Linked DNA regions of Homo sapiens: regions 2, 3, 4 and 5 are each linked to region 1. Evidence: fine-mapped expression QTL. A gene starts in region 1. Each other region holds a variant in brackets. All regions are shown on one strand. Distances are from middle to middle.

Evidence for each region.
Region 2: its variant is fine-mapped to the expression of SUSD6 in visceral fat (GTEx, PIP 0.97).
Region 3: its variant is fine-mapped to the expression of SUSD6 in whole blood (TOPMed, PIP 0.99).
Region 4: its variant is fine-mapped to the expression of SUSD6 in whole blood (TOPMed, PIP 0.97).
Region 5: its variant is fine-mapped to the expression of SUSD6 in testis (GTEx, PIP above 0.99).

Annotation. Positions count from the first base shown.
Region 1 is chr14:69,609,056-69,614,159 of GRCh38, forward strand. It overlaps SUSD6 (sushi domain containing 6), which reads left to right and starts at 2,541. Exons shown (of 6, transcript NM_014734.4): 1 at 2,541-2,773. RefSeq lists a silencer at 2,290-3,059.
Region 2 is chr14:69,389,210-69,394,313 of GRCh38, forward strand. All of the region lies in intron 2 of ERH (ERH mRNA splicing and mitosis factor), which reads right to left. Among named protein-coding and RNA genes, the nearest start is that of ERH, 6.5 kb to the right of the region's middle. The variant ATTATT/A (reference allele first, on the strand shown) is at 3,066.
Region 3 is chr14:69,700,868-69,705,971 of GRCh38, forward strand. SUSD6 (sushi domain containing 6) reads left to right here. Exons shown (of 6, transcript NM_014734.4): 3 at 2,528-2,725; 4 at 3,737-3,875. Among named protein-coding and RNA genes, the nearest start is that of SRSF5, 64 kb to the right of the region's middle. RefSeq lists a silencer at 425-719. The variant G/T (reference allele first, on the strand shown) is at 3,171.
Region 4 is chr14:69,690,846-69,695,949 of GRCh38, forward strand. All of the region lies in intron 2 of SUSD6 (sushi domain containing 6), which reads left to right. Among named protein-coding and RNA genes, the nearest start is that of SRSF5, 74 kb to the right of the region's middle. RefSeq lists an enhancer at 3,641-3,690. The variant G/T (reference allele first, on the strand shown) is at 3,183.
Region 5 is chr14:69,716,888-69,721,991 of GRCh38, forward strand. No RefSeq gene overlaps it. Among named protein-coding and RNA genes, the nearest start is that of SRSF5, 48 kb to the right of the region's middle. The variant G/A (reference allele first, on the strand shown) is at 2,836.

The DNA of each region.
Region 1 (5,104 bases):
AATCCCAGCTGTAACCCAGCTACTCGGGAGACTGAGGCAGGAGAATCCCCTGAACCCGGGAGGCGGAGGTTGCAGTGAGCTCAGATCATGCCACTGCACTCCAGCCTGGGCGACAGAGCAAGACTCCGTCAAAATAAATAAATAAATAATTAAATATTTAAAATGTTTAAAAATTTTAATTTAATACTTTTCTGTGGCACTTTGGGGCTCAACCAAAGTGCCACAGAAAAGTAGAAGCAGCAGCCTTGGGAAGATTCTGAAGGGTAAGTAGAGAAGGCCTTCAAGATTGAGGAAACAGCATGGGCACCTGGTTTGTGACAGGAATGGCTTGTTAGAGACCAGCAGGTGGTATGGGGAGGCTGGAGTGGGGTGTGTGGAGGGATGGAGAGCATTTGGGCCGGACTGTGGACAGCACAGGATACTACAGTCCTTGCTGATGACTTTGAGTTCATTCTGTGGACCCTGAAGGTCTGGGAGAGGATTTTTTTTTTTTGAGACAGTCTCACTCTGTCACCCAGGCTGGAATGCAATGGCACGATCTCGGCTCACTGCAACCTCTGCTTCCTGAGTTCAAGCAATTCTCCTGCCTCAGGCTCCTGAATAGCTAGGATTACAGGCATGTGCCACCACGCCTGGCTAATTTTTGTATTTTTAGTAGAGAAGGGGTTTCGCCATGTTGTCCAGGCTGGTCTCAAACTCCTGACTTCGTGATCTGCCTGCCTTAGCCTCCCAAAGTGCTGGGATTACAGGCGTGAGCTACCGCGCCCGACTGAGGATTTTTGGGTAGTGATGGACAGATCTGCATAGGGTCTCACAAGGGATTTTATAAGGTGGCAGTTCTTGTATGAAGTTACTGAGCCTCTTAATGGCCAAACTGACTTCAGTGCACAGCCAGGGGCTCAGTTACTTTGGCAGTTGATCTGACCTGAACCATCCATGCCTGCTTTCTTCCCTTTCCTTTCTTTCTTTTTCTCCTTCCTCCATTCATCTTCTCCAATTCTTCCTCCATCCCTTTCCCTTGCTTCCTTCCCCCTTGTCCCCTCCCTGAGCCTTGGGTCTGCCTGGCATGTTCCTGCTGCCCACACTGATTTGGTTGTGCTCTGAGGCAGACCCAGGTAGTTCTGAATTGTGCTTTTCAATCTTCTAGTGGTCTGGGCAGTGTGGCCCCAAATGAGCAGGAAGGGAGGGGTGCCCATCTTCTCTAATGAGTCTGGACCCAAGAAGGCAAGGAAGAAAGAAGGCAGAACAAGGATAGACTTATGAAAAAGGCATTATAGCAACGAGCCACAGGTTGCTGTGGGGCCCAGAAGGGAAGGGTTCTTTTGGGGATGGGTCTGTGTGCATGGGGAGGAGCATCCTGTTTATTTGGTTCAAGCTACTTCACAAGGACATGCCCTGTTAATTCACAGTGCTTTTCCCGAAAGCCTACTAGAACTAGGCCTGGTGAGAGGCCCTGAGAAGGTGTATCCTTTTGTCCAAGAGCATCTGGGAGAAGAGGCCTGCCTGACCCAAGCTGCAGCAAAGACACAAGTCTGTAGGTCCAGATGTGGACTCTACCACTGATTTACAAGTAGGAGTTCCTTAACACTTATGGAGGACCTCTGAGACCGACACGGTGCAAGGCCCTGGGGTACAAAGATAAAAAGCCAGAGTCCTCCCCATCAAGGCGCCACGGGCCCTGTAAACACATAAACCGAGGACACACTGCATGAGAGATCACCAATAAACGATGTAGCCATACAGTGCACAAACTGCTCACTCAGTATGTGCTAGAAAATAGCCCCAGAAGGCAAGGCTCAAGAGGGGAAATACAGTTAGGAATGTGGCAGGCTTCTAGCCCGGGCTCTGCCAGTCCTGGCTCTGAACTGCGGTTTTCTCAACCTTGAGATCCCTTGTGTGCTTTTAGTATGCTGAAGGATCACTCACTTCAGAATGCTAGTGAAAATACAGATTCCCAAGTCCGACCCCACTGAATCACAATGGCTGGAGGTCATTCGGGGCCCCGAATCTGCATTTTCACCCCCACCCACCCCCCGGGCAGCTTTAATGTTGGCAGGCTAGGAACCACAGTTCGGATTACTGCTTAACAGGGAGATAATAACCTGCTTCAGACGAGCTAGGTCAGACGAGCAATTCAAGAGCTAACAAGGCAACATGCGCCAAAAGCCTTGTAAACCTCAGGGCAGTACAATTCTTTGCAAATAATAGTAATTCAATCATGCAAATAATAATAATAGTAAACGAACTGGAGAGCGCACTGGAAACGCCGCATAGTCCAGCTGAGTCGGTGCCACCGCCCCATCCACTCCAGCGCAGAGGGACTGTCTCTTTAAGGACCCCCCACCTCCCCAACCGCGTCGCTTCTCCCTTGGGTACCTGGCCCGGCCGGCGGCGCGTGCGTGCAGGGCCTCCCGGCGGGGCGGTCGCGGCGGCGCGACGCCGGCGCCGTTGCGTGCGCGCCTGGCCCTGCCCCTTTCCCGCCCCTTCCCCGCCCCCTCCCCTCCGCGGGGCCTCCCCCGCCCGCGCGGTACAGCTGGGTCAGTGACGCGGGCGCTGCAGCCGTCGCTACCGCCGCGTTCTATTCTCCGAAGCCGGCGACCGCCCCACCTCCTCCCTCCCTCCCGCCCGCTTCCTCTGCCCACAGCGCCGGCCAGAGCGAGCTAGACAAGGGCACGCGGGGCCTCGCCTAGACCCGAGAAGACTGCGGGCGCGCGCAAGCGGCGGCGTGGAAGCTGTGAGCGCCCCCATCCCGGAGGTCTCCGCCGGCTCCCGGGTGAGTTGTCACCGCGGCCCGGGGGCGGCGGGGCCGGCATTGTGCCATCGACGCGCTCGGCCGGCTGTCAGGGGCGCGGGACCAGCGCGCACCGCCCAGGAGTGACGCTGGCCGGAGCCCGGGCCGGCTTCGGCGGCTCCCCGCGCTTCTCTGCGCCGGCCCGCTGTCACCCGGCCGCGAGCCGCGCCGCTGGGAGCCCCGCGCTGGCGTGGCGCGGCCAGCCGGCCAGCAGTGGGGGCTGCGCGGCCGGGGGGACCGGCGGCTGGTTTGCGGCCGGGAACTTGGTGACCCGCGGTCCGGGGCGCGCCGTCCCGCGTCGCTGCCCGGGCAGCACCGGAAGAGCCAGACGCCGTGCCGATGGGTGCAGAGGAGGTAGGCAGAGGCCCTCTGTGCCACTGTCATTACTGCCCTCAGCCCAGCAAAGCTGCGGGGCTTGCGCTGGGGCAGGGCTGGCTTAGAGAAGGTGGATTTCCTGAGGAAATCTCAGAGCCCGCCTGTGCGCACCGCGGCATTCGGGAGCCCCCGCGCCTCGGCTGCTCTTTAATCTCAAAAACTTCTCTTATTAACCAGGCTAAACTCCCCGAAACCAGCTATTTTCTTTCAAAAAGTAGGCACGTACATACAGACTTTCCTTTTTTCGCTTGGTTTTGAGACCCCAGCTATGAGTGTGGATCTGACTCTCCCTCATGGGAGTCGTGGCTGGGGAGCTGCTGAAGTGGAGAAAAGTTACCCTGGACGAATTTAGGAGCAGGAGGGGGAGGTGGTTATGGGGACAGCAAGACCCAGGAGCAAAGAGGCGTCAAAATAAAGTCTTGGGCTGGTTAAAGGGAAGTTGGCGTCTGGGCAAGGAGGCCTAAAGCTGTTGTTCCCACAGAATTTTCTTTCAGTGGCAGGCGACATGCTGGGCTTTGTTGCTCTCGCTAACTGGGCTCCTGTGTGCTCTTCCAGAGGTGCAGTAAGATTACTCAGTTCAATTAGGCCTAGGGATTTACTCCCTTTTTTGATCTACAGAGATGGGAAGTATGTCTTTCCTTCACAGTAGTTAATTCATTTCTTGCTGTTTTCGTTCCTCTGGTGTAAAAACATACATAGGAGTTACGCACACACACCTTTTCTGTTTTGGGAATTCCACACCCAAACTGTCACCATCTAGTGGAGGCTAGTAGAGACATGTGCTTGGCACTGACTTCTGAGTTCTCTGGGTTTTGTGTTTTTAGCTAGAAGCATATTCAACCAGAAATTAAAATTTTCCTGGAGTTGGGGGAGGTATGTCTACATCTCAGGAAAGAAGGTATTTAAGCAGCAATAATATGGAAAGGTTCTTGAGGACTTACTGAGTACCAACCTTTGTGCTAAGGGCTTTACTTTTTTGAACTCATTTAATAACAGACTTTTGATGTAGATATTATTATCCCCATTCTTCTAGTTGAGACCCAAACCAAACAAGTTAAATAACTCGCCCATGTCACATAGGTATCTCATGGTGGAGCCCACAGTCTGAACTACTAGATTATACTGCTAGTTTCTGGTTTGTTTACCTTTTGATAAAATTGAACCTGGAGTCTTTCTAAAACCTTCTGAAAGCACTGCTGCTTCAGGCTGTTTCTCAGATCATGAGCATTCTAAACTCTTTCTCCTGGGTACACACTTACGGTATGTTTGCATAAGATTCATTTGTTCATTCTTTCATTCAGTACTCCCAAGTAGTTATGTGATACCGAATGTATGCCAGGCACTGTGCTAGGTATTGCAGGTACTGCATTGAATAAGTCAGAATCCAGCTCTCATGGACTCACAGCCTTTAAGTCCATTTGTTTTGGTTTATGTTGTTAGCTTTCATTGCTGGCCATTTGCTGCTGAAGGAACTTCTGCCCAGCGAGTTAAACAGAGGACAGTATTGGTATGAGTCCTGATAGATAGGACTTCCTGTCTGCAGAGTAATTTTTTGGATACTGTAGTAGAAATGGCATATGAAACAAATCCTCACTTACACCTAGATAGAGACAGGTGCCAGGGTGCTCAGTGTTTAAACCCTGAGAGCAAACCCACTGTCAAATGGGCAAGTTTGACTTCTTTCGCTGAAGCCTGCCTTCTGAAAGCCCAGAATTTGGTGAGATAGAAGAGAAAGAAGGGTAGAATGAGGTGTTACAGATACAGGCTGGCAGATAAAGAGACCTCAGCACTTTGTCTGTTTTCCTGGTCAGTCTCTGAGGTGTGGTGATTGAACTTGTGTTCTTTTTTATTTTTTATTTTTTTTGAGATGGAGTCTCGCTCTGTCACCCGGGCTGGAGTGCAGTGGCACGATCTCGGCTCACTGCAACCTTCACCTCC
Region 2 (5,104 bases), 220 kb before region 1:
AGAGACGGGGTTTTGCGATTTTGGCCAGGCTGGTCTTGAACTCTTGACCTCAGGTGATCCACCCGCGTCGGCCTCCCAAAGTGCTGGGATTACAGGCATAAGCCACCATGCCCGGCCTCCATTATACTTAATGGTTAAAGACGGGATGCTTTTCTGTTAAGATTAGGAAGAATACCAGAATATTTATTGCGCTACTTGTATTCAACATTGTACTAGAAGTTCTAGCCAGGGCAATTAGGCAAGAAAAAGAGATAACAGGCCTTCAGATTGGAAAGGAAGAAGTACAGCCATCATTATTTGCAGATGACATTATCTTACAGATATAAAATCCTAAGGAAACAATAAAAATCTATTAGAACTAAGAAATGAGTACAGCAAGGTTGCAGGATATAGGATTGGTATATGAAAATAAATTTTATTTCTATGCCTTAACAACAAGTCTGAAAATAAAATTAAGAAAACTCCATTTATAACAGCGTAAAAAAGAATAAAATTCTTAGAAATAAACGAAACAAAAGTAGTACAAAACGTGTACACCCTACACTATAAAATGTCATGGAAGGACTCTTTTCTTTCCCTTGAGACACAGTCTCATTCTGTTGCCCAGGCTGGAGTGCAGTGGCCCAATTGCAGCTCACTGCAGCCTTGACCTCTTAAGTTCAAGTGATCCTCCCAAGGATCTGTGACTACAGGTACGCGCCACCATGCCCAGCTAATTTTTGTACTTTTTGGAGAGCAGGGGTTTCATCATGTTGCCCAGGCTAGTCTCAAACTCCTGGGCTCAAGCAATCCGCTCACCTTGGCCTCCCAAAGTCCTGGGATAACAGGTGTGAGCCACCACGCCATGCAGAAAGTAAAGCCACCACACCATGCTTAATAAATGGAAAGACATCCCATGTTCATGAGTTGGAAGACCTGATGCCAATACTCCCTCAGATGATCTACGGATTCAACGCAATTCCCATAAAAATCCAAGCTGTTTTTGCAGAAACCAACAAGCTAATCCTAAGTTTGACACAGAAATGCAGGAGACCCAAGACAGCCAAAATAATCTTGAAAAAGAAAAACACTGGAGGATTCAAACTTCCTGATTTCAAAACTTACTATGAAACTACTCCAATCAAGACAATATGGTATTGGCATCAGGATAGGTATCTACATCAATGGAACAGAAATGAGAGTCCAGAAACAAACCCTCACATTTATGGTCAACTGCTTTTTGACAAGCATGCCAAAACAATTCAACAAAGAACAGTATTTTCAACAAATGATGCTAGGACAACAGGATAGTCACATGTGAAAGAATGAAGTTGGACACATCTCTACAACAGACCAGAGACTTAAAAGTAGGAGCCCAAACTATAAGACCCATAGAAAAAAATAAAGGCATTAATATTTGTGACCTTGGATAAACCAATGGTTTCTTAGATATGACACCAAAAACACAAAAATATGCAAGTTAAAGTTTATAAAAATAAAAAACTTTTGTGCTCCAAAAGACACTATTAAGAAAGTGAGAAGACACCACAAACGGGGAGAAAACCTTTATAAAACATCTATCTGATAAAGGACTAATGTCTAAAAATATACAAAGAACTCCTAAAACTTAACCATAATCACTCAATGAAAAATAGGCAGAAGATCTGGATACCTCAATAAAGATGCAGATGGCAAATAAGCACATGAAAAGATGACATTGTATGTCATTAGGGAATTGCAAATTAAAACAATAAGATACCTTAGAATGGCTAAAATCTAAATCAGTGACAACACCAAATGCTGGTAAGGATGTGGAACAGAAACTCATTCACGCTGGTGGGAATGCAAAATGGTCCTGCCACGTCTGAAGACAGTTTGGCAGTTTCTGACAAAGCTAAACATACTTGTACCACATAATCTAGCAATCACTCTCCTACGTATTTACGCAAATGAGCTGAAAACTTAGGTCCACACAAAAGCCTACACAGAAATGTTTATAGCAGCTTTATTCATAATTGCCAAAAAATAGAAGCAACCAAGATGCTCTTCAATAAGTGAATGGATAACCAAACCATGGTACATTCATTCAAGGGAATATTATTCAGCAATAAAAAGAAATCAGCTATGCAGCCACACACACAAAAAGTAAGAACCATAAAAGCATACTGCTAGGTTGGCCAGGCATGGGGGCTCATGCCTGTGATCCCCAGACTTTGGGAGGCTGAGGTGGACGGATCACTTGAGGTCAGGAGTTTGAGACCAGCCTGGCCTACACAGTAAAACCCGTCTCTACTAAAAATACAAAAAAAGGTAGCCAGGCATGGTGGCGCAGGCCTGTAATCCCAGCTACTTGGGTGGCTGAGGCAGGAGAATCGCTTGAACCAGGGAGGCAGAGGTTGCAGTGAGCTGAGATTACGTCACAGCATTCCAGCCTGGGTGACAGAGTAAGACTCTGTCTCGCACGCCAAAAAAAAAAAAAAAAAAAAAAAAAAAGCATATTGCTAGGTTAAAGCAGCCAGTCTGAAAAGGCTTCATACTCCGTAACTCTAACATGACATTCCAGAAAAGGCAAAACTACAGATATGGTAAAAAGATCAGGGGTTTGGGGGTGGTGGCAGGGAAGGAGGTATAGGTGGAGCAATGGGGATTTCTGGTAGTGAAACTACTCTGTATGATACAGTAAAGGTAGATACACGTAATTATACATGTCAAAACCCACAGAATGTTCAACACATACAGTAAACCCTAACATAAACTGCGAACTTTAGTTAATAATAATCTATGAATATTAATTCACCAATCCCAACAAGTGTAATCAGACTAATAGAAGATGCACTAATAGGGGAAACTAAGAAGGGGAGGAAAGAAGGCGTATGCTGGAGCTCTGTACTTTCCAAACAATTTTCCCATAAGCCTAAAACTGCTCTAAAAACATGGTCTTAAATAAAGTCTTTAACTGCTCTTAAAAAAAAGGGGGGAGGAAAAAAATGCTCTGATCTACAGGGGAATATTTACTACAAGAAAAAAAAAAAAAGAATAATAAAATTACCATTTGGCAACCACATCATGTGAGAACTTATTTAATA[ATTATT/A]TTAACATTTTTTTGTTTTAGTTTTTTAAATGGGAAATAAATCACCACTTTTAATTTTTAGAAAAAGAGCTACCAAGTCATGAAAAGACATGGGGGAAACATAATAAATGCACATTGCTAAGTAAAAAAAGCCAGTTAAGAAAAAGCCACACACGATAATGATTCCAACTATATGACATTCTGGAAAAGACAAAACTATGGAGACAGTAAAAAGACCAATGGTTCCCAGAGGTTGAGGGTGGGGTAGGAGGGGATGAATAGGTAGAGCACAAGAAATGTTTAGGGCAGGGCAGTGAAACCATTCTGTGTGATGCTGTAATGGCGGACACATGACACTGCGCATTTGGGAAAATCCACAGTAATGTAGGACATAAGAATGAAACCTAGTATGAACTATGAACTTTACTTAATGACAATGTATCAGTAATGAATACTGGTTCACCACTGTTACAAATGCACCACACCAGTGAAATTCATTAATAATAGGGGAAATTGTGTAGGGGTGAAGAAAGAGAGTAATATCGGAAAAACTGTAGTTTCTGTTCAATTTTTCTAGAACCCTGAAACTGCCCTGAGAAATAAGAGTATTGCAGAATCAAAGACCAAACATGATAATGTAGGTTAGGTAACAATTTGCTAAGAGAGCCTGCATACAAAATCTACATCAATAGCAGGCAGAAATGTCAGCAGAGAAATGGATCTGTAAAGAGATGAAGAAAAAAATGCCATGTTCTTCTTTAAGAATTAGAGTAGATGGCCTGGAGTGGTGGCTCACGCCTGTAATCCCAGCACTTTGGGAAGCCGAGGTGGGTGGATCACTTGAGGTCAGGAGTTCGGGACCAGCCTGGCCAACGTGGCGAAACCCTGTCTTTACTAAAAATACAAAAATTAGCTGGGCGTGGTGGCACACACCTGTAGTCCCAGCTACTGAGGAGACTGAGGAAGGAGAATCATTTGAACCAAGAAGGCAGAAGTTGCAGTGAGCTGAGATGCACCACTGCACTCCAGCCTGGGCGACAGAGTGAGACTCTGTCTCAAAAAACAAAAAGAAACAAAGACACCTGCACTCATACGTTTACGGCAGTACTATACACAACAGCAAAGTCATGGAATCAACTACGTATCCATCAATGGATGACTAGACAAAGGAAATGTGGTGTATGAGAATGCATGCACACACATCCCATGGAATACTACTCAGCTATTAAAAAAAGAATAAAACCATGTCTTTGCAGCAACATGGATGGAATTGGAGGTCATTATCTCAAGTGAAGTAACTCAGAAAGTCAAACATTTAATGTTCTCATTTATTAGTGGAGGCTAAATGATGTGTGCACATGGACAGACAGAGTGGAATAACTGACACTGGAGACTACAAAAGGTGGGAGAATGGTGAGGGATGAAAAATCACTACTGCGTACAATGTACACCAGGTGATGGCTACAATAAAAGCCCAGACTTGGTTGGCGCGGTGGCTCATGCTTGTAATCCCAGAACTTTGGGAGGCTAAGGCAGGAGAACTGCCTGAGGCTAGAAGTCTGAGACCAACATGTGCAACACAGTGACCCCATCTCTATAAAAAAACCAAAAAATTAGCCAGGTGTGGCGGCAGGTGCCTCTAGTCCCAGCTATTTGGGAGGCTGAGGCAGGAGGACTGCTTGAGCCCAGGAAACTGAGACTGCAATAAGCCATTATCACCACTGTACCCCAGCCTGGGTGACAGAGCAAGACCCCGTGTCTTAAGGAAAAAAAAAAAAAGGCCCAGACTTTACTACTATGCCATATATCTATATAAGAAGACTACACTTGTATCCCTTAAATCTATTAAAACAACCTATTAAAAACAGACAGACACACAAGCCTATAGTGTTTGAGCTTAACCAGAATATATAAGGGATACCTGTAAAATATTTCCATACTGTAACAAAATAACATGTGACAAATAAGAAGAGAATATTTATAAAACAACAAGCAGCTCTGGAAAGTCACTCATTATATACATTAGTTTAAAAAAAAAAAACACCTAATACTTGT
Region 3 (5,104 bases), 92 kb after region 1:
TATTTCCCATGAGTCTGTTTTTTTTGTTTTGTTTTGTTTTGTAAAAGTATTTTAGATAACAAAAACCTAATCCCTAAAGCATTACAAGAAAATACTGGAGAGTATGTTTATAAACTCAGAGTAGAGAAAGAGTCCTTAATCCAGAAGCCATAAAGAGAATGATTTTTTAAATATATGTGTGCACTTAATGGTCATATCCCTATTTGGCAAGAAGGACCTGAGGTGCTTATATTTTTGTCCTTTTTCAGAGCATAGCACAGTGACCCCCTACTCAGAATCAGTAAGTATTAGTTGAATTGAAATTAAACTGAATTACAAGTCACTTCTTTGCAGTCCTCACTTTTTTTTTTTTTTGACTTATTATGAGTGCTAGGTGACCGCCAGGATCCCGCTCAAAGATTCTGTGGAGATGTGGGTTTTATGGAAAGAGATACCCAGCAAAGCAGGAGTGGCTTTAGAATCAGCAGCTCTTCCCCTGAGACTGTCCTTCCCAGCACATTGGACTTGTGTGTGGGTCCTGCCTGCTTTCAGGAGCTGCCATGGGGTGCTCAGCATTAATTATGCCACGGAAATGAACCAATTAGACACAGTCCAAGGAGAGCCAGGGAGTAAGTCAGGGAGATCTGTGGCAGGCCTGCTGCCCTGAACAAAAGAGGGAAAGTGTAAAGGCTAAAGCAGTTTGCGGAGGTTTCTTTGGAAATCTAGCTGGCCAGCGCTCTGAACTACTTGGCCAAAGTTAAAGAGCACCAGAAGGAGTGTTTGCGTTTTTCTTTCTCCTGTTCAAGACTCTGGTGGTGGAGGAGAATAGGGACAAGTTGGGTCCTTAGAGGGGACTTGGGGGGAGCTTACTGGAGCTCATCTCCTAGTTTCAGAGAAGCTGCCAGACTTCTCTGGATCCCTGTGGCACCTACCCAGCTTTGTTTTGTTAATAGCTTTTTAAAAATGGCATCTTTTTTTTAGTGGCATCACCTAAAAAAAGAAAAGAAAAAGTGCCTTTTCTCCCCATCTCAAGTGATAAGCAAATTGAGGGTAGGGAGCCATCATCTCTTTTCCATTTGGTGTCCACTCCCCAACCTGGCTGGCAGTCAGCTTGCTTAACAGCCATTTGTAGATTGGAAAGAAGAGGCATGGGTGAGAGAGGCTGTGAGGGCACAGCTGCAGGGTGGTGTGGTCTGCCCCTCTCGTGGATGAGAAACTGCCTTATCTTGGACAGTCAGGCACTGTGGTGTGACTCTCAGTCACTCCAGGCCTGTCAGAGGAAATGAGAAAAAGAAAACGACCGTTCTTATTCTCATACAGATGTCCTTGTGATATTCAGGATGGGGGCAGGTTATTTGTCAGCAAAATTGAATTTCCTTTGGAAAACTTTTGGTCTTTATTGCATTCATGGTTGCCTGGCCATTCTACCTCAGCCCAACATTCCAAACAGTGATTCTGTAGTGCCCCCACTTTTACTGTTTTGGCTGGTAATACCCGGCAGTCCACCACCTGGGGTCTTCAGTTTTGCAGTGTCAGTCCAGAGTGGAATCAGAGGTTGTCCTTTTCCTCCTCAGGTCCACTCAGACCTTCCAGATCCTCTGACTTACCATTACTGCAACTTACCAGGGTTCCCACCATACCTAGGCACTGCCTGCCATCTCCCTAACTGACCAGTTTCAAGAGGGCAAAGGGGAGGTAACCTTGACACCCATACCCCTTAAAGGCCATGCAGCTCATGGGGTAGAAGCAATGTCTGCTGGTGGAAAGAGCAGAGGTTTAGAATCAGAAGATTTGACTGTGACCCCAAGCCTGCCATTTACCTTGCTGTAAGCTTGGCTAAAAGTCACTTAACTTTTGTGGCCCTCAGTGTCTTCTTCTTCAAAGGAGAGTAACGATAGCTGTCTCACAGAGTTGTCAGGACAAATAAGGCGGGAGGTGAAGGTGCTTTTGAAACTAGGCAGTCCTGTATATCAGTGGAAAATGTGGAATTTATCATGGGATAGAGACAGGTGGTGCCATTGACTACTATAGTCAGAGAATGGAAGATGCACAGGGGGTTTGGGAAGCCTCCCAGGGAATCTATCAGAAATCCCCTCTCAGGCCAAGAGTGCACGTTTTTATTATACAATAGAGTCTTTTCTGACATTGATAGTGGAAACAAGGCCAACATTTTTCCTCCTTTCACTGTGATTTATTATGTGTGTTACAGGCTTTATTACATAATACAGGCTTTATTAAAACTATTATGTCTAGATCTCTATAGGTTCAAGACTTTAGAGTCTGCCGTTCATTTATGGATGGAATTCTCTTAAGGCATGGTGGGGAGGGAGGGGGAAATGTTGCAAGCAGCCACTTCCCCTGTTGCCAGTATACTTCCCCTCTGTCAGTGGCAACCTGAGTTTCCAGGGTTTGGTTAACAGTTCCTCCAAGGAAAGGGTTATTTCCTCCTCCTGTGTTTCCTGTAGAGGCCTTCAGAGCTGCGTCACTGAGAGCAGACTCCTACTGGATACCTCACCACTGTACCCCTGCTCTCTCCCTGTCTTTGCAGTGTGCCCCCTACCACCGGAGCCAGAGAATGGTGGCTACATCTGCCACCCCCGGCCCTGCAGAGACCCCCTGACAGCAGGCAGTGTCATCGAATACCTGTGTGCTGAAGGCTACATGTTGAAGGGCGATTACAAATACCTGACGTGTAAGAATGGCGAGTGGAAACCAGCCATGGAGATTAGCTGCCGTCTCAACGAGGGTCAGTCTGGCAGATGAAAAAGGGATGCTGCTGGGGTTCTGCTTTCTGTTAACTCACAGGATGCAAAGCATGCTTCCTCCAGAGCACTCTTTGCTGTGGTGCAGCCCAGCCCCAGTTGATGCTCTGCAGCCTCCCTTCCTTGGGTCTTCATGTCTTTGTGGAAGATACTTGAGGTTGCTGGTGCATGTCCTATTGCATTTCATTGAGCCATCTGCCCTGCTCTGTAAAGCCCGTTTGATGTTCAGGATCTCTTGTTTGCATGGCCAAGTGTTGGTGACCCTTGACCATGTTCTGCCCTCACAGTGAGCACAATGCTAATACCTTCTCTAATGTATCGTCCATTTCATTTTTCCTTGAATGGAGCTACAGACCAGCTGGACAAAAGACCTCCCACCCTTACTGCTTCCTCCTGTCTTGCATGACAGGAAAATCCACCTGCTTGCAG[G/T]AAAGTGTGTCATATAACCATCTTTGTGCTTCCCACTCAGGCTTCAAGACCAGAGCATGTTTAACCCATGACACCCCAGAAATGGGTGGGAACCAACCTGAGAGTTACAATTAAAGCTGTGGATCTTAAGACAAGGTTTTATTACAGTCCAGTTTCTGTAAATTAATCCTGCCACTTGGGAAGAACATAGGTAGAACTTAAGATGGTGGAATGACATGCCCAGTTAAATTGTCGATGTTTACAAACTTCAAGCTTTTGAGGATGGGATCAAAGTGGTTTATAAAGGTAAAATCTCTAGGGTTAAGTGAGTTTATGTGTCAGATGGACCTCAAAGATTGGAAGTGAGGGGAATTTTTTATTCAGGAAACAGGATAGGGAAATGGTCCTTTTCCAAAAGAACTGTGTATACATAGGTCATTCTAAGCTGTTATTCCTGAAATGACCCTGACCGTAGGATGTCTGTATTGCACCATTCAGGAGGCATTTGACAAGATCAGCTGTGGGGCCCATCAGCTGTTTTGTGTATTTGGGTACAAAACCCTTCTGATGATGGCTTGTTTTTATAGATAAAGACACCCACACATCACTTGGGGTCCCCACGCTGTCTATAGTGGCTTCTACTGCCAGCTCCGTGGCGCTCATTCTCCTCCTCGTGGTGCTGTTTGTGCTGCTGCAGCCAAAGCTGAAGTCTTTCCATCATAGCAGGTGAGTCCAGTGGCAGAGCTGACATGAGACAGGCAGGTGCAAGCATTACTGTGGGGGCCAGTCTTTGGTGGAGGGTTGCTGGTGGCCCCAATCTCTGTGGGTCTGTGTGTGTCCAGGGAGTGGGGAGGGCCCTGCCATGTGTCAAACTCCTAGATGTGCCTACCATTGTGCTTATTGCTTTGCATACATTATCTTAATCCTCATAGGAACATTGCAGATGAGGAAATTGAGGCTCAGAGAGGTTATTCACTCAGGGTTATACCTCTAGATGACAACAGAGCTCAGAACTGAGGCTGCGCGCGGTGGCTCATGCCTGTAATCTCAGCACTTAGGGAGGCTGAGGTGGGCGGATTGCCTGAGGTCAGGAGTTTGAGACCAGCTTGACCAACATGGTGAAACCCTGTCTCTACTAAAAATACAAAACAATTAGCCGGGTGTGGTGGCGCGCGCCTGTAGTCCCAGCTACTCTGGAGGCTGAGGCAGGAGAATCACTTGAACCCACGAGGCAGAGGTTGCAGTGAGCCGAGATCACACCACTGCGCTCCAGTCTGGGAGACAGAGTAAGACTCTGTCCCATTAAAAAAAAAAAACAAAAAAAAACGGAAATCTGTTCAATTCCAAAGCCATGTCATTTCCCCTACACCAGTCGTTCTCAAAGCGTGGTTCCAGCAGCGTCAGGATCATGGAACTTGTTAGGATCAACCAAATGAGAAGCTCTAGGGGTGAGGCCCAGTGATATTGTTTAACAAGCTGTCCAGGTGATTTTGATGAACACTTAAGTTTGTGAGCCACTATCCTGCACTCCTGGTTCCCAGTCCCGGCTGCAATATAGAGGCACCTGGGGGAGTTTAAAAACAAATATCAACACTTGGGCCTCCATTCCCATTCTGATTTATTTGGTTTGGAATGGAACCCTGGCATTCACTTTTTATAAAAAGCTCAGTTTTTCTGTGCAACTAGGATTTAGAACCACTGCACCACACTAAGGAGAAACAAAGGAAGTGGATTTTCTTGCCTGCCTTTATCAGTTTCCTTTTCCAGTCTACTGCTTTAGCCACAAGTTGTCTAGGGGCGAGGAGCATGAAGGGCAGAGCTGATGGTGCTGGCCCTGAGTGGATTCCCGATGATGGACTTTTCTTCCAGGCCATTGTGGCTTCTGCAGTTACTTGGCCCTTCCTGGCAGTTCCTCATTCCCTCTTGAGGAGTAACATTTTTTATATATCTTCACA
Region 4 (5,104 bases), 82 kb after region 1:
GGCTTGTTGGTTTAGAGGCAATAGAGATGAGACTTGTGGCTTCGTCCAGCCTTCTCCCCCCGCACCAAAAAACCACACACCTTTTATTGTCTCTTTTGTATTTGTAGTCCCTGTCTCATGGTGGGACCCCACCCCCCAGAATGTACAGGGCTCACTTCATGGTATGCCTTAGACCCAGTCACATCTCTTTCTTCAGAAAAGACCATTCAGGGCTGGGTGCAGTGGCTCACATCTGTAATCCTACCTAGCACTTTGGGAGGTTGAAGCAGGTGCATCACCTGAGGTCAGGAGTTCAAGACCAGCCCAGGCAACATGGCGAAACCCTGTCCTTACTAAAAATACAAAAAATTAGCCGGACTTGGTGGTGTGCACCTGTAATCCCAGCTACACAAGAGGCTGAGGCATGAGAATTGCTTCAACCTGGGAGAAGGCAGAGGTTGCAGTGAGCCAAGACAAGATCGTGCCACTAGACACCAGCCTGGGCAACAGAGCAAAACTCTATCTCAAAACAACAGCGACAAAAAACCCATTCAGACCTCCACCCCTCAACTGCTGGTGTTTCTCAAAGACCTATGGTGTTTTGCTGATTTGGGGCCATTGCCTCAGTGGATTTCTGTTACCATCCATAACTAGAGTTTACTGGTGTTTCCTTTCTTTCTTTGCGGTTGTCTAGGCCTTTGTGAGTAGCAGTGGCCTGTTGAGTGCCTAAGAGAATCAGCACACTACCTGACCCCCTGTTTGGGAGTATGTGGCAGAGGCTGTTTATTTCAGGCTTTGGCAGTGATAACCCAGTGGCCCTGTGTGTTCTGGGCAGTGGCAGAAAGGTAGCCCTCTAATTCCAGGTCACATCCCCATTCTGCATTTAGTGACAACCTTCCTTTCACATATCCGTCTTAGAAGTCTTGTGTTCTCAGCCAGGCTTGGTGGCTCACGCCTGTAATCCCAGTACTTTGGGAGGCTGAGGCGGGTGGATTACCTGAGGTCAGGTGTTCAAGACCAGCCTAGCCAACATGGTGAAACCTGTCTCTACCGAAAATACAAAAATTAGCCCGGTGTGGTGGCACACACCTGTAGTCCCAGCTACTCAGGAGGCTGAGGCAGGAGAATTGCTTGAACCCGGGAGGCGGAGGTTGCAGTGAGCTGAGATCATGCCACTGCACTCCAGCTTGGGTGACAGAGTGAGACTCCGTCTCAAAAAAAAAAAAAAAAAAGAAGTCATGTGTTCTCAGCTGAAAATGCCTACATATCTTCTCCCACTTGCAACTTTGCTGTCTGTGATCCTTAAATAGCTCCATTGTGTGTAGTACACAGAAATTAGTGAAGGAAACTGTCCTGCCTTTTCCCTCCACTTCTCTGGAAAAATGTGGCCCCACCTGAGATATGAACTGAGTCCTCTGGGCACAACTAAACTCACCAGGCCATATTCTTCTCCAAACAGGAATTATAGCAGCTTTTGTCCATATGTATCCCACCCCTATGTTATACTTTGTAGGTCTTGGGGTAAATTTTTTTCTGGTGGCATCAGAAAAAATCAAGAAGCTTCCTTGTAGAAGGGCCAGCCAGAATTTGAATGCAGACTCTAGTACTTAGAATCCAGGTGACCTCAGTCCATTACTAAATTTTTCAGAGCCTCAGTTTTTTCTGAACAAATCAAGTTTTATACCACCTTCTTCCTAGGGTGGAAGAATTTAATAGGATAACACTTTTAAAGTACCAGTGCAGTGCCTGGTGATAAATGTTAATTCTCTTCCTTACTTGTATCCTTTTGGCAACAGAGATCATTAAATTTGTTTTAAATTTGATTGTGTGTTTCTTGAGGCCCTGCTGTGTATGCCTGGGACTGTACTTGGCATTAGGAGTTACCATTAGCTGGTAGGATTGGAAATGAAACCACAATTTTGGCCTTTGTACCCAAGAGTCCAACCCTGTTTTAAACTCTAAGCCAGACTCCTAAGTCAGTTATCACCTGCTCATCAGCTTTCCTTCTGAGCTGCCGTAAACAGCCATCTGGGCCTTTCCTGAGAGGACCAGTCATCTCCTCTGGGAGATGAGGAATTCTGAGAGGGGAGAGCAAACACATATTTTAGCTCAGGTAGGTGATATGGTGAAGGAGATGAGAACAAGAAGTGACAATGGCTGATGAGGAAAAAATAAGCATTCTCTGCTTTTTCTTAAGCCTTTAACTGCCACTGTCAAGGGAAACAGTAACACTTGCTAATACACGTGGAATAGCCTGGCTCCCTACCTCCATTGTCATCCCACCATCTGGAGGTGGAGGTAGGAGACAGCTGTGGGCTCTGCTCTATAGGTCACTGTACTGACCTATAGCAGTGGTAGTGGCTTTGGGCACTGAGTGGGCTAGCCCTGTACCTGGAGCAGCAGGATAAAGGAGAATGGTCCTCTGGCCTGCCCCTCCTTGTAGCAGTGGTAACAGTGGGAGGGGGAGGGGTTCCCAGCCCCAGCTGGCAGCCTGTTTCCCTGGGTCCCTGAGCTGCAAGAACAAGAGGAGGTGAAAGGGTAACAGGCCATATGGAGTCCATTTGTCAGCCAAGAGCAGCCTGGGCTGTATTGTCGAGAACGGGAAGTGAAAAAGGAGCCGGCTTATTACTGAACTGGAACAAGGAGAGAGCAAACAACACCCCCCAAAGTGCTTATCCTGCTCTGTTTTCTGCCTGCCCCCTCTCCAAATATCCAGAAATTTCTGAAATAATCCTTTTTCTTTTTACCAAAGCCTTTGCCCATTCCAAAAATCAGAGATAAGGGTTTAGTTTGCTACATGAAAATTTATCAGTGCCTAGTAATGTGCCAGGCATGATACAAGACCCTTTCAAGTATGCAGTTTTGTTAGTCTTCTAAAAAAACCTGTGGAGCTGGATATTGGCTGCTAAGGACTAAGGCTCAGAGGAGTTATGACAGTTGACAAGGCTGCAGAGCAGGCCCCTGGGTCAAACCCAGATTCATCTGTCTGACCCCCAAGACTATGCTCTTACTCCATGTGGCTCTGGTCCTGTTAGGTAGGCAGTGTATTTTCACAGTTAGGTACCAATTTGGAGAATACAAATTGTACCCTGGAGAGGGATGCTCTTTGCCGTTGTCTGTTATTGACTCATCTCAAATCAAAAATCATTGTGGCTCATTGCAGTTGAAAACAAGACAGTGTTTTGAAATAAGGACAAAATTTT[G/T]CAAGTCACGTTGGTTTTCTACTAAGCATCTACTATCTCCTGGATTATTTGTCAGGTACTAGGGATACAAAAATGAGCAGAACAAGTCTCTGCCCTATGGCTTAGATGTGTGGGTTGGTGGTTATTGGGGAAATGGAGGAAGGACCAACCTGTGAGAAAACCTGCAGAGACTACAACATGGTGATAGGTTACAAATAGGAGTGAAGATGATGTAATGGGAACCCAGAGGAGGAATAATAAAGCTGCTGTTATTGAACACTTAGTATGTGACAGACCCATTACCAGGTACTTTACCTGCATAGTTGTGATTAACCTTTTGAATCCCCATGTTAAAAATGAGGAAACTGAGGAATAGGAAGATCTCCCCAGGACTACCCAGTGGGTAACTGTTGGAGCAGTGTGCAACCCCAGGCCGTGAAGTCTCAGCCCAAGCTGGTAAGCTCCACCCTGTGCTGCTCATTGTTTCTCTCTGGCCATGCCTGGGAAGGTGGCCTTGGAACCTTGGAGATGGGTGGGGTTCCAGCTGACTGCATGTGCTTTCAGTTCAGGGTTTCTAGGCTGGGAGAGAAACAGTACTTTTGACTGAATGACTAAGGACTTTAGAGGCTTAGGTGCCACTAAAAGCACTTTCTTTTATTGAACGCTGTGCCTCAAACATGAAAACTCCAGGTGACAGGAGTTTTTATGTTTGAGGCAGGGTGCAGTAAAAGAAAGTGCTTGTTGGCTCTGAGGCCTCTGGCTGGCATTTTCCCTCTCCTGTGAGGGGGAGGAAGTGAGGGGCCCAGGCCTAAAACAAGATGGACAGGTCCGAGGCCTGTCCCACCTGTCAGTTGCTGATCTTCCGAGGAGGGCTTAGGTTGAGCCTCTCTTAGGAAGGCAGTGGTGGGGGCCCGAGAAGAGCCACAGGAGGTATCCTGAGCCATGGGTGGTTTCTCCCTGTGTTCTCCCACCCCAGCTCTGGTGCCACACCCTGAAAAAGGCTTGAGCTACTGCAGGCTGGCTCTCCCCCAGTGAGTGGGAAGTTCTCATGAGAAAAGGGATCCTGACTGGACAATAGGCTTCCTGTCTGACTGCTAGGAAGATTTGTCTCATAGGAGAGGAAGGTTGCAAATGGCATGAGAAACCATCTCACTTCCCTCTCACTGCAGCCTGTTTTAGACTTGACTATTTGGCGGGATCGGGAAGCCAGAAGGCTGGGCAGAGCCATGGACCAGAGCAGCCCCAGGTATCTCTTAAGTAGTGGGACTCCTGCCTGTTTTCCGGCTCTCACCACAAGTCCACAGCAGGAATCTGTCCCAATGCAGGAATTTCTGCATGGACAGGATGATCTCTAGCCCCTCACACCTTGTGCTGTATCCAAAACCACAATGGTTGCAGGACTTTTGCGAAGGAACCTTGGAGAGGTAGTGAGGCCCGCCAACTTTAGACAAATTTGCAAATGTCAGAAGAGATCTCAGAGGTGATCTGGTTCATTGCCTTCATGTATTGAAACTGAGGCCCAGAGTCTACGGGCAGTACCCAGTTTGTCCTTGTCACTGGACTCTGCCATCTGTGGCTCCCTTGACAGATTATGGGTGTGAGAGAAGCCTGACTCCGAGACCCTCTGATACTGCCCAGTGCTGTGGAATGGGAATACAGCCTTCTGGGGTTCAAATCCTAACTGTGCCACCCACCTGCTGGGTGAAATTGAGCAAGTATCTCAACCCCTGGCTCATCTGTGTAATGCATTGTTATGTTTCTAGAGGGTTTTTTGTGAAACTTAAATGAGTTACATATGTAAAGTGCTCAGATAGTGCCTGGCCTGTAGTCAGTGAACACAAGCTGTTGTTATTAGGAGGCTTCAGAAGAAACCTTTTGACCATATCAGATGTCATCACTTGTTTTTTCTTCTTTGTATTTGTCTGGAATGCTCTAATTCCAAC
Region 5 (5,104 bases), 110 kb after region 1:
GAGCTGGGCTGAAATTCTAAGCCCCTAGTCCAGGTCCAGTGTGTGTCCCTGTCCCACCATCTTCAGCAAGTCCACTCTCTTCTGCTTGGCTTTGGAGCCCAGCCCCATCCTGTTCTCCAACACAACTTCCCTCTGCATCCTGAACACCTATGACTCACTGCGCTAGAGTCACCGTGGCTCCCTTGGCCCTGAATGCTGCTCCTGGAGAGGTTGGAAGGAAGAGCGACACCTGAGGACAAACTCCTGTATTAGTCCATTCTCATGCTGCTATGAAGAAATAACATGAGACTGGGTAATTTATGAAGAAAAGAAGTTTAATTAACTCATGGTTCTGCGTGGTTGGGGAAGCCTCAGGAAACTCACAATCATGAGGGAAGGCTCCTCTTCACAGGGTAGCAGGAGAGAGAATGAGTGCCAAGCGAAGGGGGAAGACCCTTATAAAACCATCACATCGGCCAGGCACAGTGGCTCATGTCTGTAATCCCAGCACTTTGGGAGGCCGAGGGGGATGGATTACCTGAGGTCAGGAGTTCGAGACAAGCCTGGCCAACATGGTGAAACCCCATCTCTACTAAAAATACAAAAATTAGCCAGGCCTGGTGGCTTATGCCTGTAATCCCAGCTACTTGGGAGGCTGAGGCATAAGGATCGCTTGAACCCGGGAGGCAGAGGTTGCAGTGAGCTGAGATTGCGCTACTGCACTCCAGCCTGGGCAATAGAGCGAGATTCAGTCTCAAACAAACAAAAAACAAAAACAAACCATCACATCTTGTGAGAATTCACGATCATGAGAACAGCATGGGGGAAACTGTCCCCATGATTCAATTACCTCCACCTGGTCCCGCCCTTGATATGTGGGGATTATTACAATTCAAGGTGAGATTTGGATGGGGACACAGAGTCAAACCATATCACCTCCTGAGGCAGCCTAGGTGTCTGGGGGAAGTTCTGAGAAGCTCTTCACTCCTTTCCTAGTTCCTTCAGATCAGGGCTGGGCAGGAGGCAAGGAAAAGAGCCCCAGTATGAATAGGGAATACTTCCCAGAGTTCAAGACCTGGGGCAGCACTTTATTTTCCTTCCTGTCTTGATCTCAACCTGAGGCTGTGGCCCATCTGCAGCCTAGACTATGGAGAGGAGACTAGGGAAGGAAGAGAGCTGCCTTGTTTATCACCTGCTTCCACCTCACTGGGTGACAGGCGGCCTCTTTCCCCTGCATTGGAAGTGGCAGGAGAGGAGGGAGCTCAGAGGCAAGGGTAGTGAGACTCTGGCTGGCCAGAGGCACTGCTGCTGAATCCCCCACTCTGGTAGTGGGAAGGCCCGGCTGAAAGGAGACTCCTTCTTTTCTCCACAGGCCTTGGAATGAGAAGAAGGGATCACAGGGAGATTCTGAGTGGCCCAGTCCATGGTAGAAGCTGGCTGGTCTGCCTTCCCAGCAGCGGCCCAGGGTGGGGGAAATGGCACTGTCCCAACCTTGCCCACTCAAGTGATCCCAGAAGCCAAGCTGCATACAGAGTGGGTCTCACGGTCTGTCTTCAAGATGAGAGGCGACAGCAGCAAATGCAGTTGTGCCCCAATAGGGACTTTGGTCTGGTGGGGAGCACGTGGGGGAGTGTTGGCTCCACAGGACATTTACCACACAGCTTCCCTTTCCCCAACCTTCCGTGATGTTTGCTGAGCACCTAATAGGTTCCCGGGACTGGGTAAGGTGCTTTAAAGATACTATTTTAGGCCAGGAGAAATGGCTCATGGCTGCAATCCCAGCACTTTGGGAGGTCGAGGTGGGAGGGATCACTTGAGGCCAAGAGTTTGAGACCAGCCTGGGCAACAGAGCAAGATCCTATCTCTTCAAAAAATTTTAAAAATTAGCCGGGTGAGGTGGTTTGCACCTGTAGTCCCAGGTACTCAGGAGGCTGAGGTGGGAGGACTGCTTGAGCCCAGGAGGTTGAGGCTGCAGTGAGCTATGATTGCTTCACTGCACTCCAGCCTGGGCAACAGAGTGAGACCCTGTCTCCAAAACAAAGAAACAAAAAAGAGACAGAGAGAGAGAGGTGTTATTTTAATCAATCAACTCAGCCAGTCTTGCAAGGCAGATGTCATTACCCTTTTTACAGGTGAGGACAGTAAGGCTCAGAGAGATTCAAGTACAGTCCAAGACCACATAGGTCATGCATCCTCAGCTGAGTTGCGGTTTGAATTCAGGTGTGCCACTCCTGGCCTCTTCACCTCACGCTGCTCACTTGCTCACCTCTTCTACTCCCCAGCTTTTCTCCCTGGGTTCTTGATCACCTGACCCCTTCACACCTACTATCCTGCCCAAGAATCCCTCTCAGCAATGTCCAAAACCAGGACACCAAGCCATTTAGCAAAATGCAGTCCCAGATGCTCAGCAGTCTCAGCAGTCAGGATGGGTTCTGGGTCCCTGGAAAGATCAGGCAAGGCCAGGAGACCCAGGCAGCCCCTGTCTCCTCCCTGGGCCTTGCTTCTGAAAGGTGAGGAGAATGCTCTGTATTCTCAGGTCTTCCCACTTCTCCTTGGGACTAGAGCTGGGGGCACTTGCCAGGCTTTTCTCTTTCTGTTACTGAAAAGGGAATTTCATCAGCTGTGAACCTGGGGTGAGACATGACACATTCCCAAGTTGAGCCTAGGTTCATCCTCCAAGCTGCCTGGTGATGAAGGAGCATTACCGGGCTTGGGGACCATCCAATCCCACACCCAAGAGGCAAACAGCTGCTCGGCATTTCCTGTGACGCTCCAGTGCCCCTAGAAAAGGAAATTTCACAAGCTAGGAATGTCCTGAGCAGGCTGTCTGGGACAGTATACACTGTTCTGAACCTG[G/A]GGGAGTAGATGATTCTATGGTTCTTCCTGCAGAGGTTTTGGCAAGCATGGACTTCCCCATAGCAGAGTTTTCTGTGGGAGTAAGTAGCCCTGCCTGCAGCAAAGGCAGCCTATTGCAGATGAAGCGTGTCAGCAGGGCTCAGCGTCTGAAGGGACTGGGGTATGCGACAAGACTATGGCTCAACACAAATGCACCCAGCGTGGGGGCTGCCCTGGCTTCTGGGGTTGGCCTCTTGAGGGCCTTGAGCAGCTGGGGTCCAGAGACTTTTAGGGACTTTTGGTGCTGTAGCCTCTCTCTGGGACGGCCATTCCCCATTCCTGCTGCAATCCTCATTCACTGACTTGTTTGCTAATTCATTCAACAAACTTTTATTTATTTATTCATTCATTTTGAGGACTTTACACAAAGCCTAGTGTTAGGTTCTAGGAACATAGTGATGAACAAGAGCCAGTCTTTGCCCTTAAAGAGTTTGTAGACCAATAGGGGAGAAAGAGATTAAACAGCTATCTAAAACTTAAGGCACAACTTAAAATTGAAAGAAACAAAGAAGCAAAAAACAAACCTATAATGATACACCCTGAAAAGTGCTTGGTAGTGATGAGAAAGGAGCTAATTTCTTTAGGGTATGAACAAAGATTCCCCGGAAAGGTGCCACTCGCATTGGGTCTAAATTGTTGTGTTTCGATATTATTCGTAGAGAAGTAAGTAAATGAGGGGCTGTGGGATGGGAAGAAGAGGACTTTTCAGGCTGTAGAGACCCATAGAAGCAAATGTACAAGCATCTTTTTTTTTTTTTTAAGACAGAGTCTTGCTGTGTTGCCAGGCTGGAGTGCAGTGGTGTGATCTCGGCTCACTGCAACCTCTGCCTCCCAGGATCAAGGAATTCTCGTGCTTTGGCCTCTCGAGTAGCTGGGACCACAGGCACCCACCACCACACCCAGCTAATTTTCTGTGTTTTTTTTGGTAGAGATGGGACTTCACCATGTTGCCCAGGCTGGTCTTGAACTCCTGAGCCTAAGCGATCTGCCCACCTCGGCCTCCCAAAGTGCTGGGATTACAGGTATGAGCCACTGCGCCCGGCCAAGTGTACCAACATCTAAAACATGAACCACATGAAACTGTCATTTTTGCAGGTTGAAAAAAAGTTCAGATATGGGCAATTTTAACCTAACATATAATTGTCTTAAGATCTGCTCAAATTAGGGATGCCTTTCTTCTCTGAGTTAGACTGCTACATTTTAATTATTTTAATCACAAGAAGGAAATTCCAGGACACCCAAAGTGTCCAAAGTCTTCTTGTCCTGGAGCCTATGCCCCACAATAACAGAGCACTGAGCATAGCTGACTCTTTGGTTACCATGAGCCAGCTCCTGCCGGCTGACTGCAGGAGGCGTTTTGAGAAATCACATGAGCCGTTCAAGTCTCCAGGACAGCACCAATGCACTTGTTCTTCCAGGTGGACAACAGAAGGACACCCACAACTCATAACTAAGTTCCTGCCAGCAACAGCCAGGCAGCTATTCCAATGCAGACGTGTTTTGACCCTTTTTATTGTTTTCCATAGGGCAGAAAATGAGAGACAGAAGTTACACCCATTTACAACATTCTCTCCTTGTTAACTTTTTCTATTTTTTATTAGAAACATTCAAAAAACGTGCTATTTTATGATAAGAGTAATACATATTAAAACATCAGAAATAATATTTTTTCACCTCAGGTTGGGAAAAGAAAAGGCTTAAAGGTATCTAGTAGGAGTGTAAATTGGTACATTGTCTATGGAGGGCAATTCGGCCCACAACCATCAAAATTACAACATAGGGCTAGGCGCAGTAGCTCATGCCTGTAATCCCAGCACTTTGGGAGGCCAAGAAGGGCAGATCACCGGAGGTCAGGAGTTTGAGACCAGCCTGGCCAATATGGTGAAACCCCATCTTCACTAAAAATAAAAAAAATTAGCCAGGTGTAGTGGCGCATGCCTGTAATCCCAGCTACTTGGGAGGCTGAGGCAGGAGAATCACTTGAACTTGGGAGGCGGAGGTTGTAGTGAGTTGAGATTGCGCTACTGCACTCCAGCCTGGGCGACAGAGAGAGACTCAGTCTCGAAAAAAAAATTACAATGTAGTTCCTTATCTTCCTCCCTTACTGAACTCATTCAGTCCTAAAGACAGTAAGTGAGGGCACACAAGAGAGTTACACATTCAGAAAGAGGGAACGACCCCAACCAAAACAAACAGAATGAACCCTACAATGCCAGATTGGAATTGGAGA